3 linked regions of the Homo sapiens genome follow. The protein of the gene in region 1 purifies or fractionates together with the protein of each later gene. This does not show direct contact. Each region holds a gene or a part of one and is shown on either strand. Other genes may lie near its edges. The genes, in order: FAM83G, POMGNT2 and CREB3L2.

Region 1 (2,738 bases):
GATCTGGTCAAAAGCTGGAGGGGTCAGGGTGGAACAGGGACAGTTTGGTGGTTGCGGGGCCCTGACTCCCTGGGCTCCCCCCTGCCTTCATCTCACAAGAAACTTCCTGATGCATCAAACTTGAGTTTTTTCCACCTCATCTTTCCCAGTGTTTGGAAAGGTGTGAGGGTAGAGGGTTGTTTTTTTTTTTAAGGTGTATTTGAATGACTATTTTATTCGTATTTAAAATAATACTATTAAGTAAGCATTTTGCACATGGGCACCCCAGTGTCCCGCTGGCCCAGCAGGAGTCACTGTTGGCCTCTGGACACTCATCGGCCTTGGGCAAGTGGTTCTCAGCCAGGTTTCCGATTGTCGATTCAAGGAAGCAAAAGTAATTTTTCTTGACATTTGAGGACCTTCCTGAGGCTTCTAAAGTGTTCATCCTGATCACCTGAAGGGTGTGATTTTAGCAGAGCTGAGAGTGGCTGGTGGTGATGTGGCCCCACCCCCTGAGGCACAGAGAAGAGGGAGACAGGTCCAGAGAGGGATGGGGCCTCCACCAAGACCATATAGACCATCTGGCGGGCTCAAGCCGGGGCTTTTTCCTCTCCAGTCCAAAACACCTCACTGTTCCTGTCTACCTCGGGGTCAGGGCCCGGCATGGCCAAGCCCTGGCCCATCTGTGTCTGTGTCACTCCCCTCCCTTCCAGACTGGGCCTGGCTGCTGGGATCCCTCTCATGCGGTGGGTCCCAGGGACACTAGAGCCCCTGGTCTGAGAGGGAGAAGCCTGGATGTAGGAAAACCCGTTTCCACCCCAGGCCCTACTCCCTAGCCTTTTCCAAGTGGGACATGGAAGAGGCAGCCTGCTGCCTGGATGCTGGTCTCCCCAGCATCACTGTTCCCATGGAGCTCAGGTCAGGCTCTGTATTCAGACCGAGGGTTTGTGTGAGGCTCAGAGCAAATGAACAAGTGCCATTCAAGGGTTAGAAACTGCTCAGCCACAGGGTCCCAGTGTCTGAGTCTGGAAGAGTCTTTAGAGATTTGTTCACTCTCTGAGGGATCCTCCTGGCTCTGCTTACATACTTCCAGGGACGGTGAGCTCACGCTCTCTCCGGGCAGCCCTGTGAGTTTCCTATCTGTTCCAGACTAGTATCGCCAATCTCTCCCAGCTCTCTTCTTTCCTCCCTGGCCTTTGTCCTGCAGGAGGTAGCATCACCTCTTGGCATTTTGTACATGCTTTTAAACAATTGGAGGAGCTGCCCAGGCAGTTTTATGGCCTCCTGGTTGTGTGCCTTCACACCCGCCTACAGCCCCACCTCACCATCAAGCGCTGAGCCAATGCGGGTGTGGCTGGCCCTGAGTTCCTGAGTCAGCTCCTTGCCAGGGCCAGAGCTGGTAACAGCGGGGCAGCAGGGTGGGTAGCCTCTACCAGCCAGGGCAGTCCCTGAGGGGCCAGCAGGGGGGCTGACTGCCTAGTGGCTCAACCTCCTGAACCCACCCACTCCCAGCGATGCTACCCAGAACCCCAACGGCATGAATCCTGCACAGTGCCGGGCAGTGCCAGACTCCAAAGGGCTCGCTGTGGGGACAGCCCCGCCATGGCCACAGACTCTGTCCTCACCTTTGATTGTCAGGATGACAGCCCCCACCACCATGATGAGCGTCTGCAGGGCGTCCGTGTAGATTACAGCAGCCAGGCCCCCTGCCAGTGGAAGCAAGGTTGCTGGAGGGGGCCCTGGCCCCAGGGAGGAGGGACACGGGGAGGAACTTCTGGGGCTCCTGCTGGGGCCACTTCCTGGGCTGCTCCCTCGGGCCTGTAGGGGGAGGTGGCCTTCTGACCCCTTTACACGTCCCCTGGGTGGACCTCCCTGCTGCAGGCACCATACCTGCGATGGTGTACAGGGCTGTGATGCCGAGCGTGAGGATGGTGGAGAGGTAGAAGTTCCAGCCCAGGCAGATGTGCACAAACAGAGCCCCCGCGTACAGGTCCAGCTGCGGAGGGAGAGAGCCTTGTGTGGGACTGTTATTCCCAGGGCTCCAGCAAGCCACTCCCTGGGTGACCTCGGGCAAGGCCCTCTCTGGGCCTCGGTGGCCTGTGGATAAGGAGGGGAGACCCCCACTCGCCTGCCTGCCTGCATCACGGGGCCATTGTGAGGTTGGGGGAAGACCTGGCCGTGGAGCTACAAGCTTGTGCGGATGTCAGGGGACATTACTGTTGCTAATAAAGTCCAAAGTGGCCAATGCCTTTCCCAAAAGCAGTGTTGTTATTGAATCTGGCCCCTTCCCGAGGGGATAAAAGGCAGAGCCCTGTCCCCTCGGTTCCCAGGGGCACCTTGATGAGTTTGTGAGGAGTCTGTGAAGACCAGTAGGCCTCAGGAAAAGTGTGTGCTGGGCGGACCAGTAGGCCTCAGGAAAAGTGTGTGCTGGGCGGACCAGGAAACAGAGGGGCAGCCTTGCTTCCTGCCCCCACCCCCCAGTGGGTTTGGAACTGAAGCCAATAGTGGCTCAGAGGCTGGGTCTCAGGCTGAAGCTGGTCTCCACACTGACTGGACACAGCCCCTGCCCTCCCAGAACCTGTGGCTGCTCCTCCTAAAGGCAGGAGCGCTAGCCTGGAGGCCAACCTCTGCCTGGCATGGGCCTCAAAGACCAGAATCCCACCCTCCACCTGGCAGTAGGGGCCCAGTGAGAGGAAGGGCAGGACCCTGTTCTCTGGGACATGGGCTAGTAACAGGCTTCACCTTGCCCCACCCCTGAG
Region 2 (3,578 bases), on another chromosome or scaffold:
CTGGGAACAGTGTTCACAGATCTCCAATGCCAGTTGTTCTCATTTAAGGAAAAGTCATTACCCAGAGTCCAGGAATGTCAGGCCCCTGCAAGGGATTTTCCTATGGCCTGTCTTTCCTATGGCCTCTCTTTGTTAGCTTTTGCTGCAGCAGTGCTTCATCACAAACAGCCCCAGAATTTCAGGGATGTTTAATCAGCTGTTGCTCAGCCCTGATGTCTATGTGTTGGCTGATCTTGGCTGCGTTTGGCTGATCGCACTGCTGCTCTTGGCTGGGCCCACTCAGTCATGAGGGATCAGCTGAACTAGAACAGGGCATGGCCGGAGCAGTTCTGCTTCATGCGTATCTCGCTCCTCTTGGGGCCAGCAAGTTAGCCTGAATACATTCTTCTTATGGCAGTGTCATAAAGAGGGCAAGGCCAGCCCAAACACTTTCCAAACCTTTGATTATGTTCTGTCTGCTGACATCTCACTGGCCAAAGCAAGTTAAATGGCTAAGCCCAAAGTCGGGTGTGGGGATGCACTTTCCAACATGGAGGCGATGGGGAGGGAGAGAATATTTTAAACAATGGTCTAATCTACCACGCCTACCAATGTGCACAATGGCTGCAAGGATCCAGTGCTGTAGCGGGCACACAGAGCCTAGCTACCGTGCCTGGCACATAGCAGGAGCTTGTAATGATGCCAGGAAGACTGCCAATTCCTTTTTCTTTTCCTTCTCTCCTCCTGCAGGCTTTCACCAGTTCTCAGGATGCCCATAGGGATGGGTGAAGCCTGCCTGGCCTGTGGTGCTTCCCAGTGGCCGTCATCTCATTAGGGCCCCACAGTGGCATTAGGATGCACCTCTCGGCGGTGTTCAACGCCCTCCTGGTGTCGGTGCTGGCAGCGGTCCTGTGGAAGCATGTGCGGCTGCGTGAGCATGCAGCCACACTGGAGGAGGAGCTGGCCCTCAGCCGACAGGCCACAGAGCCAGCCCCAGCACTGAGGATCGACTACCCGAAGGCACTGCAGATCCTGATGGAGGGCGGCACACACATGGTGTGCACGGGCCGCACGCACACAGACCGCATCTGCCGCTTCAAGTGGCTCTGCTACTCCAACGAGGCTGAGGAGTTCATCTTCTTCCATGGCAACACCTCTGTCATGCTGCCCAACCTGGGCTCCCGGCGCTTCCAGCCAGCCCTGCTCGACCTATCCACCGTGGAGGACCACAACACTCAGTACTTCAACTTCGTGGAGCTGCCTGCTGCTGCCCTGCGCTTCATGCCCAAGCCGGTGTTCGTGCCAGACGTGGCCCTCATCGCCAACCGCTTCAACCCCGACAACCTCATGCACGTCTTTCATGACGACCTGCTGCCACTCTTCTACACCCTGCGGCAGTTTCCCGGCCTGGCCCACGAGGCACGGCTCTTCTTCATGGAGGGCTGGGGCGAGGGTGCACACTTCGACCTCTACAAGCTGCTCAGCCCCAAGCAGCCTCTCCTGCGGGCACAGCTGAAGACCCTGGGCCGGCTGCTGTGCTTCTCCCATGCTTTTGTGGGCCTCTCCAAGATCACTACCTGGTACCAGTATGGCTTTGTGCAGCCCCAGGGCCCGAAGGCCAACATCCTCGTCTCAGGCAATGAGATCCGGCAGTTTGCACGGTTCATGACAGAAAAGCTGAACGTGAGCCACACAGGAGTCCCCCTAGGCGAGGAGTACATTCTGGTCTTTAGCCGAACCCAGAACAGACTCATTCTGAATGAGGCAGAGCTGCTGCTGGCACTGGCCCAGGAGTTCCAGATGAAGACAGTGACAGTGTCCCTGGAGGACCACACCTTTGCTGATGTCGTGCGGCTGGTCAGCAATGCCTCCATGCTGGTCAGCATGCATGGGGCCCAGCTGGTCACCACCCTCTTCCTGCCCCGTGGGGCAACTGTGGTAGAGCTCTTCCCATATGCTGTCAATCCCGACCACTACACTCCCTATAAGACGCTGGCCATGCTGCCTGGCATGGACCTCCAGTATGTAGCCTGGCGGAACATGATGCCAGAGAACACAGTCACACACCCTGAGCGGCCCTGGGATCAGGGGGGCATCACCCATCTGGACCGGGCTGAGCAAGCCCGTATCCTGCAAAGCCGTGAGGTCCCACGGCATCTCTGTTGCCGGAACCCCGAGTGGCTCTTCCGAATCTACCAGGACACCAAGGTGGACATCCCGTCCCTCATTCAAACCATACGGCGCGTGGTGAAGGGCCGGCCAGGACCACGGAAGCAGAAGTGGACAGTCGGCCTATATCCAGGCAAGGTGCGGGAGGCACGGTGCCAGGCGTCAGTGCATGGCGCCTCCGAGGCCCGCCTCACTGTCTCCTGGCAGATCCCATGGAACCTTAAATACCTGAAGGTGAGGGAGGTGAAGTACGAGGTGTGGCTGCAGGAGCAGGGGGAGAACACCTACGTGCCTTACATCCTGGCTCTGCAGAACCACACCTTCACTGAGAACATCAAGCCCTTCACCACCTACCTGGTGTGGGTCCGCTGCATCTTCAACAAGATCCTCCTGGGACCCTTTGCAGATGTGCTGGTGTGCAACACGTAGCGAGCAGGCCACAGCCTGGCCTCGGGAAGGTGGCTCCTGCAGTTCAGCGTCCCTGGGCCCATTAATCCCACTGTGGAGACTTCTGGGAACTATTTATTGAGCAGGCCTGTGCCTCCACATCATCTTGTTGTCTCTGGGGTGTGGTGTCACAGCACTCCTCTTTGCCCTAGAGATAAGGGACCTGACTTCCCCTTCTCCCATCCTGAACATTTGTACCCCTGGAGAAGTTCCTTAGCAGGGAGGAGGAAGAGGAGAGGAGGAAGCAAAGAATCACAAGGAACCTCTGGCTAGGTGATCCTGATGTTTCCTACTGAGTTTTTCTGGTATCCAGATTTCTGGAAACCGAGTAATCATGTACTGTTTGATTGGGTGGTTCATCTGCTTCCATCCCAGTGAAATTTACCTGTAGCCCAGTGAAGGGTGTGTTTGGAACATTCATTAAATGATTCTAAGCATCTTGGTCAAGTCTTCTTATTGGATGGGAGGAAGGGGAGCTGGTCGTCAAAACCCAGGTGCCCTTTAATCTTGATTGTTAGCTAGGGAGACGTGGCAATGGGAAAGCGCCCAGGATGGCAAAGTGAGCAAGCTGGTTGGATTTCATCTTGACTAGCTGGACTAATATCACAGTTCCACCTACATGGGATAAAAGCCTAGAAGTAGGTAGGAGAGGGCTGAGGGGAGGAAGAGCTGTATCCACCATGGGTTTTTTTTTGGGCTCAACTAGACATTAAGACTCGCAAGACCTGGACAGATCATACCTGGCATCAGAGTTTCTTAGAAGGATGGAGAGAGATGCTCAGCATGCCAGCAGGGCCATGTCAGCAGTTCCCTTCCACAGGAGCAGTCCTTACATCAGTACTCCTGAGGGCCACCTTGATTCAGAAGCCCATGCCCCATAGGAGTCAATGTGTTTTCAACAACCCACAATCAGAGTTCCCAGGGTCCCTCAAGGGACATGCCCAGTTATGAGTTTCTGCACTTAGGGAAGCCTAAGGCCATGG
Region 3 (3,036 bases), on another chromosome or scaffold:
AAGAGAGTGTTATATAAAAATCCGACAGCTGAACTAGGTTGCTCTTTTTTGGCAGGGAGTGGGGATGAGATTTGACACCAATATGGGCAAAATTAGATAACCTTTTGGTTAATATAAATGATTTTGATTTGGAGGCCTAATTTGTAGATTGTGAAAGCAGCTTTTAGTTTAACTTATTCACAGACCCCTTATAATTACCATGTTTTTTTTTTTCTTCCTAAATCTCTTGGTTCAGCTTGTGAATCTTACGTGCCCGTAAAGTTGGGATGTTGAATTGGCTCTTCTTTGTTCTGGCAGTGAGTCAAGTGTCCAGCATTTTTTCATAAGTGTTTTTTAAAATTGTTCTCCAGCATTTTATGGCTCCTCCCTCCCATGTCCTCAGACCCAGCAAAAGCGTAGAGGCAGAATTAGAGGCCTCTCCAGGCCAGCTCCTCTGCCCACATGTCATACAAGGTGTGAATTTGAGCACAGTCCAGAAATGGAGACATCCCACCCCCAGTTGAATAATGGCCCATTCATGCCAACCTTGCCAACACGGAGAGGGCAGAGATGCACTAGAAGACCTTCATCCTCCCCTTCCTCTGCCCCAAGTCACTACAGTTGGTTCTATTGAAGCCAGTCTTTAAGAAACCTGGGTTAAAGACACCAGCACTTCTGCTTGCTGGGCTGGCTGGACCTGTGAAGCCATGGGCAGGTAGTGCCCTCTTGAGAGTCATTTTATTTGGCCACCTTCAGGTGAGACTATCCATAGACACATGCTAGGATAGGCCCCGCTGGGAGGGCAGTTACAGGAGAGAGTAGGTGGTGGTGACGTGAGGGCTGTGAAGGATCCAGAGACAAGACTTAGATGTTTCGTTCATTCACTCACTCATTCAGTTACTCCTAAGACTTTTCAGTTTCATAAGGAAGAGTGTTGCCTGAGGCCCTAGGGAATATTGGGGAATAGAAGGGATTGAGGAAACATTAATAATAGTTATTCAAAAGACCCAAATGCTTATACTTCTCTCTCCCTTCTTCTCTCTCTGACACACACACACACACACACACACACACACACACACACGTGCACATTCCTCCCTTACATGCTCATTTGTGCCTTAAATGTGCCTTATAGGTAAATCCAGGATGACTGAGGAATCCCTCGTCACTGGGAGATTTTGTATATATTCTTTTATTATTAGATTGAGTTGGGTGTGGGGAAAAATTTTTTTCTGAAGGCTCAAAAGTGGTTTCCTAAAAGTGAGCCACTATCAGATTTGCACATCAGGAGAAAAGAAATAGGGTTACGTCCATTAGGAAAATCCCAGTTTGCAGGAGTGCAATCACATCAAAAAAACAACCAGCCAGGATTAAAGGTATTATAAATCCTCATAGCGGAACATTTCTCAGGGCAAAGGAACCTGGCTCATTTGAAGATTAATGTTCCATGCCTTTGTGGTCAAAGGGTCAGCACTTAACACAGGAAAAAACTAGGTGTTGTTTTGTTTTGTTATTTTGGACAACATAAAATTCAGGAATGTTTTATTTAGCCTTGGTTTCTAGAAGGAAGGGAAATAATATTTCTTGAGCATTTACTAGGGTGTTGCGTGCTGTGCTAAGTAAATTTTAAGTCTTTCAGTTTTATAGATACGGAAAACAAGGGTGACTCTTTACCACAGGATGAATAAAGAACTAAGTAATATGGGAAATGCAGCAATTTCTGGACTAGCTGAGCCGATTCCTTCCTGTGAGCACACTGTAAGCTTTCAAGTTCTCTGGGCAGGAATTACAGCACCTGTCCCCTGCAATGGCCCTGCTGTGTGATGCTCATCGCTTCCCTTCGTGCTGGAGCAGTCCCCCAGGTGTCCATCTCCTATCTTTTTGTTCCAATCTTCTGTGAGTTCCAGCTAGCAGGCTTTACATCTGGGGAAAGGAAAACCAGGGGTTTTAGCTCTGTTCTCTGCTCCCATCCTTCGCTCACCAGCTGAGTGAGAACATGAACTTTTTGCACCATGTACCCATGGCTTACACTACTTAGAAAATCACCTTTTCAGATAAAACAGTTTATGAGTTCATAGAGAACACCAGCACTCTTTGACAAAACTGTGAGTGACCCTTTTTAAACAATGCTGAGCAGGCCCTGAGCTATAATCAACGGTGAGCTTTAATGTCTATGCTGACAGTTAGGTTTTGCTCTCTTTTGTAACAGGTTACGTAGACCAGCAGTGTTTAAATCTAAATACGTTGTGAGTCTGTTATCTGTCCTATCGCGTTTTTTAAATGACTTTTTATTCTTTATCATAGCTAAGTAAATACCAAAAAAAAAAAAAAGCTTTGTAGGACACTTGTACTTAGTTTGGGAAAAAAAAATAAATTGAAATTGTTATGCTTTTGTATTTCCATTTCTTGCAAATAAATATTTTTTCTTAAATAGTAAGATGTTGCCCAGTCTTTATAATCTTGGTACTAATTTGAAAAGCATGTTGTTTTTTTATGAACATGGGTTTGTGTATGTGTGCCGAACCGTTCTTTCCTGGATATCTACTTGGCCTGAAAGAAGAGCCTCAAACCAGCAATTGGTATGTTATATAGGACTGAATCCAAGCCTTAGTTGGAGGAATATTGAGAATGTAATTGTTTTTTCAGGCAGCCACGGGAAGAAAAACAGTATCCTCTAGAGACTTATGCAGCATGACTGTTATTTTTATTGTCTCCTCTAACTATTCCCTAACTAGATTTCAACTGTCTGTGGATTTGATTTTGCTTTCCCCATCTCTGGTTGCTTGAGAAAGATCCTTTGGACTTGAGCCAGAAAGGAATGATCCTTCTTCCTACGAACAGTTGCAGAGGATGTCTAACAGATTCATGCTCCAGAAATTCTGATGAAATGGTTGATAAAGGTCAGTGCACTCAAGCAGAGTAATCTTCGTTCCATTACAATGTCTGAATCCAAATGTAGCTTTCTTCACTCAGAGAGTGGGGGCTTCGTTTAGTCTCAGACTGACTTGGGATGTGAGAGACTAAGGCCAGGGACTGTGCTTACTTGGAAAAAAAAAA

The links.
Region 2: the proteins of FAM83G (region 1) and POMGNT2 purify together in Homo sapiens (co-immunoprecipitation; one large-scale study listed by IntAct). This does not show direct contact.
Region 3: the proteins of FAM83G (region 1) and CREB3L2 purify together in Homo sapiens (co-immunoprecipitation; one large-scale study listed by IntAct). This does not show direct contact.

Annotation. Positions count from the first base shown.
Region 1 is NC_000017.11:18,968,289-18,971,026, reverse strand, and holds the end of FAM83G (protein FAM83G), read left to right. Parts: coding exon of another isoform or gene 1-14; 3' UTR 15-1,604; coding exon of another isoform or gene 1,605-1,685; 3' UTR 1,686-1,869; coding exon of another isoform or gene 1,870-1,975; 3' UTR 1,976-2,238; downstream 2,239-2,738. Other genes in the region: sodium/mannose cotransporter SLC5A10, read right to left, coding at 1-14, 1,605-1,685, 1,870-1,975. UniProt on the Homo sapiens protein: Substrate for type I BMP receptor kinase involved in regulation of some target genes of the BMP signaling pathway. Also regulates the expression of several non-BMP target genes, suggesting a role in other signaling pathways.
Region 2 is NC_000003.12:43,078,688-43,082,265, reverse strand, and holds the end of POMGNT2 (protein O-linked-mannose beta-1,4-N-acetylglucosaminyltransferase 2), read left to right. Parts: intron 1-729; 5' UTR 730-834; coding exon 835-2,577; 3' UTR 2,578-3,032; downstream 3,033-3,578. UniProt on the Homo sapiens protein: O-linked mannose beta-1,4-N-acetylglucosaminyltransferase that transfers UDP-N-acetyl-D-glucosamine to the 4-position of the mannose to generate N-acetyl-D-glucosamine-beta-1,4-O-D-mannosylprotein.
Region 3 is NC_000007.14:137,874,359-137,877,394, reverse strand, and holds the end of CREB3L2 (cyclic AMP-responsive element-binding protein 3-like protein 2), read left to right. Parts: 3' UTR 1-2,416; downstream 2,417-3,036. UniProt on the Homo sapiens protein: Transcription factor involved in unfolded protein response (UPR).